2 separate regions of the Homo sapiens genome follow, and region 2 is linked to region 1. The links come from fine-mapping of genetic effects on gene expression. Tissue or cell type: whole blood. Region 1 holds a variant in brackets; the other region holds the start of a gene. All regions are shown on one strand. Distances are from middle to middle.

Region 1 (2,688 bases):
GGATACTGGAGTCTGAGAAACCAAAAAGCTTTCAGAAGAACCCTGATGGGGCACAAGAATGGGCATCAGTTTTCTGAATCCGAGAGCACATGGATTTCTGTTCTCATTAGATTGGAGGTCCCAGAGTTATTAGACTCCATACCTCCTTTTAATAATAAATGGAGACATAGATAATGCAGTAGACCTCAAGTCGTAGAGCCATTCGTTGTGATCCTTGATTCATGACTCACTGTCATTGGTTGGTCTTTGCATGACTCTCTTTTGCTTTTATCTATCAGTCGATCAATCAATCTATCTGCTACCTATTTATCTATCAATCATCTATTTACCTATCAATCATCTATATCTGTCATCTATCAATTGTCTATTTATTATCTATATATCTATCTATTTATCATCTAGCCATTATCCATCAACCTGTCTATCTATCTATCTATCTATCATCTATCATCTTTCAAATAATATATTGAACACCCATGAGCCTGCCTCCCCACATGAGAACTGGAACAGTGGCGACACCTATGTTCATTCTCTATCCTGTCCGCTCTGTGACCACTTTCCTGAATTTTGTGTTTATCTTTCCCTTATGGTTTTTTTTTTTTTTTTTTTTTTTACGGAGTTTCACTCTTGTTGCCCAGGCTGGAGTGCAATGACACAATCTCGGCTCTCCGTAACCTCCGCCTCCTGGATTCTCTTGCCTCAGCCTCCCAAGTAGCTGGGATTACAGGCACGTGCCACCATGCCTAGCTAATTTTGTATTTTTAGTAGAGACGGGGTTTCTCCATGTTGGTCAGGCTGGTCTCGAACTCCTGACCTCAGGTGATCCACCTGCCTTGGCCTCCCAAAGTGCTGGGATTACAGGCATGAGCCACTGCGCCTGACCTATCCTTCCCTTATGTTTAACAATTAATATAATTCCCACATTTTCTAGTGATTAGGAAAAAATAATAATAAATATCACAGCAACATAAGCAAAAACACACCCACACATGCACCTGTATATATCTAAGCAATATGTTGTATCATTTTAGGTAATTTTAAAATTTATAACAAATGCTGTGTTTTTACATTGATAAAACACTTATAAATAATGTCCTGAGCCCTGCCCTTTTCACTCAACATTGCATTATGAGTTCAGGCTTATCCATATTGCTGTGTATAGCATATTACATTCATCTGCACTGCTGTATAAGATTTTGTTCGTGTTTGTACCACAATTTATTTATTTTCCTATTTATGAGTGGTTGGGTTTTCTTCTGTCATGAATAACTGCTACACATGCATTTATGAGTTTCTCTGGGGCCTATCTGCTAGGTAAATATACATCTAGGAGCGGAAGGAATTGTGGGGTTGTAGGAGTATCAGTCAGGGTCTAATCAGAAAAAACAGAAACCACTCTATGGATTTTCAGATACTTTTAATTTTGAAATAGTAACAGATTCACGAGAAGTTGCAAAAATAGTACAGAAAAGTACATGTACCTTTCCCCCATTTTCTCCTGATAATAATGTCTTAGATAGCTATAATACAGTATCAAAACCAGGTCACTGGTATTGGCACAATCCACAGACCTTATTCAGAT[T/C]TCACCAGGGTTACATGCATTTGTTTGAGTATGTACATAGTTCTATGCACACATAAAACTTTATTACACGTAGATTTGTATAACCACCACCACAATCAAGATACAGAACTGTCCCGTCACCACAAAGATCCCTCTGGCTGCTTCTTTTTAGGTACACTGATTTCTTTCTCCAACCCCAACCCTGTCTTTAACCCTTGGCAACCACTAATCTGTTCTTCACCTCAATAATTTTGTCATTTCTAGAAGGTTATGTAAGTGGAATCATATAGTATGTAACAATGTGAGACTGGCTTTTTTAGTTGGTAAAATTCTCTTGTGGTCCGACAAAGTTGTTGCATGTATCAATAGTTTTTTCCTTTTTATTGCTGAGTAGTATGGTAATCAATAGCTGAGAAGCCTCACAGGAGGCAATGAGGCAATCCATAAATTAATAATAGCAGGAAGCTGTTACTACCCCTCCCCAGGACTAGAGAAACAAAAGGTTAGTGTCACCAGAGCCCAGGGCCAGGGTCACCTGGTAGAAGTTAGAATCATGGCTGGCTTTCCTGTGGGAACTGGACCCATCGGAGAGCTGTGGCCACCACAGGGGATGTTACCTGAGAGGAGAAGGGGAGGGTGCTGGTGAGAAACACCTTGGCTTCTCCCTTCTTTCCACCTTCCATTCTCTCTCTTTTATTAACTGAGCCCAACTGGAAGCAAGATGACATGGCTGCCGAGATCCTGCTGGAAAACTGAGGACATAAGGGCATAGCAAAGAGTGGATCTGAGGGCAAACAGACTCAGGACCTGCACAGCAGCCTATGTGAGTGTTTGATTTTGCAAGATAATGCCACACTTTTTCTAAGTGAGTGTCCTATGTCCTAATGCGTACCCTTATAAGCGATATGTAAGAGATCCCATGGATCTGTATGTTCTCCAATACTTGGATTGTCTAGCTATTAACATTTTGCCATTTTAGTGGACATAAAAGCTTATCTTATTGGGTCTTGATTTACATTTCACATGAGTTTGAACATCTCCATATGTTTGCTGGCCATGAGCATTTCTTCTTTTATAAAATGCTTTTTCTTTTGTCCATTTCTTTCTGTTGTTTTTCTTCTTTCTTG
Region 2 (2,688 bases), 31 kb before region 1:
TCTCAAAACAAAACAAAACAAACAAACAAAAAAACCGGAAACCACAAAACTTTTTGAGGACAAGGACCAGGTATTTATTAATTCTCATACCTCCCAGAGTGTTAGGCACAAAATAAACATTCAACCAAGACCTGTTGCACTGAGCAGTTCATATATAACAGGAGTGACCCAAGTTGAAACGTAGAATCAGCCCTCTCATACCACTTTTTGCCAGGTGATCATAGGCAAGTTACTTAGCATCTATGTTTCCTTATTATTAAAATGGTCATAATTACAATGCCTAAGATAAGGGGTTGCTGTGAAGATTATTAAATCCTCAGTAAACTTTGGCTATTGTTACTCCTATGATTATCATCAATATCATCAATTACCTTATCTGTTCAATACTGGTGGCACAGGTCCACCAGCTAGATGTCTAATCCCTTATGTGTCTATTAGTGGTACAAGTGGAGTTTGAGTGGGATTTTTTTTTTTAAGACCAGTTCCAAATCATCAAGGATGATACCACTAGTAGCAGCTTGTCTTGTCTGTACAGTGGTAAGTCCTGGCCTTGCCTTTGTGGCAAATACAACCCCCTTGAATTGCTTGGCCCTTCTCAGCATTGCCTAATATTAGGGAGGACTCCTGTAAAGCTCACTGGTTAGAAGATCAAGACACTTGGGCCTGGTTCTGCCCCTGGGGGCCATTGGGTAATTCCTTGCAGTCTCCAGGCCTCACTTGCCCTCTGAACAAGAAAGAGGCTGTTCTGGGTCATCCCTCCAGGCCTGTCCAGCCCTGGCACTCTGTGAGTCGGTTTAGGCAGCAGCCCCGGAACAGATGAGGCAGGCAGGGTTGGGACGTTTGGTCAGGACAGCCCACCGCAAAAAGAGGAGGAAAGAAATGAAAGACAGAGACAGCTTTGGCTATGGGAGAAGGAGGAGGCCGGGGGAAGGAGGAGACAGGAGGAGGAGGGACCACGGGGTGGAGGGGAGATAGACCCAGCCCAGAGCTCTGAGTGGTTTCCTGTTGCCTGTCTCTAAACCCCTCCACATTCCCGCGGTCCTTCAGACTGCCCGGAGAGCGCGCTCTGCCTGCCGCCTGCCTGCCTGCCACTGAGGTATGTGTGACCCCCGCCCAGCCTTTCCCTTCTATAGTTGCACCAACCCCGACACCCCCGTTCACGCCGTCAGCTCGTGTGCAAGGGAGGGAAGCTCTGCTGAGGATGCGCCTCTCCTCCCGGCTCCATCACGGCTCCCCTTAAGAGCATGGCCCTCGGTCCTGTCTGCCTGTTGCTTTTCAGAAGGTGGACTCACTGTGTAACTTTGTCTTCCCTTACAGGTTTACAGAAAATAATCTCACTATGTCTTCGGGGGAGCATTTTCTCACTCTCTGTTTTTCTCTGTGTCTGTCTCTGGTTTCAGAGGCTGCCTGCCTGTCCTCTTTGCTCCCTTTGCAAATGTGGCAGCCTCCTCCTTTCCTGGGAATCTGATCCCATCACAGCTGCCACAGGGACCTGGCCAGCAACCGGAGTCTGTCCTCCAGATCTCGGTCAGGGGTTCTGTTTTCCAAAAGGGACTTTGCACGAACAATCAGTTGATCTCTGAAAGGCAAAGGGGGAGGCTTCACCATTAATCCACACCTCTGGGAAGCCTTCTGTTTTCCTCTAATTCTCCTCACTCCCAAACACCACCTTCCGTCCCCCCAATACACAAATTTCAGCACCATTCTGCCTGAAATGGCACCATCACAACCTCAGTCTTGGGTTAGGTGTTGTTCCTGTCCTGAGTTCCTTGGGATGGTAAACACAGGCAGTAGCCCTTAGTTTATCTAGATCTGAAAACCCAGACATCAGATATCGTCAACCAAGACATGGGTGTAATGGGAGGTGGAGTGTGCTGGGGGAGATATTCTCAGAAGGGGGAAAGGGGGAAGGGAAGAGGGAGAGAATTCCAGGGTCCCCTTCCGTAATCCACCCAAGACTAGTGTCCAGCCTGTCAGGGTGTCAGTTCTTCTTCAGACAAATCCACTACCTTTCTTCGCCGCCACTGGCTCCGTGAACTGGCTGTCAAGTGGACTTCCTTAGGGAAAGGGACTCCAAGGACTCCAAGGGAAGGGGGGCACTGGGATGAGTTATGTCTTCCAGGATTCCCAGTCTGCCCAAAAGGGAACAGAGAGGCATGCATTTTCCTCAGGAAAGGACAGCATTTTTTTCATTAGAGAAAATGTTTTCTCTAGTAATGCTTTAGAGTTAAATTTCTATACGCCCCAAGTGCTGGTGGTTTAGTGAGAAGCAAAGCAGAAGTAGGACACAGGCTTCGGGCATGCATTTTATGTGTGATCTTAGGTAAGTGTCTCCCCTGGATTTAGTGCCCCATCTGTAATGAAAGAAGGCTGAAACTGAAGGCTCTTTGGGGTGCTTTGTGTCCTCTAAAATATTCAAAGGAAGATTTCTTAACCAGGGTCTATGGAGTGGTCTTTGAATGGGCCTCAAGCCATCTCTAAGCCCCTAAAAATTGTATGCACTGTGTGTGTGTGTGTGTGTGTGTGTGTGTGTGTGTGAGAGAGAGAGGGAGAGAGAGAGAGAGAGAGGATGAATATGGGTGGTCACAGCTTTCAGCTTTAAGATATTCTCAAATGGATTAGAGGGCATGACGTGGGGATGGAGTGAGGACTGGTAACAAATGTGTGTATTTGCTGGAGGATGAAGCC

The links. PIP is the estimated chance that this variant, and not a neighbour inherited with it, causes the effect.
Region 2: SPARC starts here. The variant in region 1 is fine-mapped to the expression of SPARC in whole blood (TOPMed, PIP above 0.99).

Annotation. Positions count from the first base shown.
Region 1 is chr5:151,654,162-151,656,849 of GRCh38, reverse strand. LOC105378231 (a long non-coding RNA gene) reads right to left here. Exons shown (of 2, transcript XR_944417.3): 2 at 1,401-2,688. It overlaps LOC124901116 (a long non-coding RNA gene), which reads left to right and starts at 2,345. Exons shown (of 2, transcript XR_007059007.1): 1 at 2,345-2,384. The variant T/C (reference allele first, on the strand shown) is at 1,583.
Region 2 is chr5:151,685,273-151,687,960 of GRCh38, reverse strand. It overlaps SPARC (secreted protein acidic and cysteine rich), which reads left to right and starts at 1,046. Exons shown (of 10, transcript NM_003118.4): 1 at 1,046-1,096. CLMAT3 (colorectal liver metastasis associated transcript 3) reads right to left here. Exons shown (of 5, transcript NR_109873.1): 4 at 2,010-2,132; 5 at 51-1,579. RefSeq lists enhancers at 278-1,105, 1,106-1,935.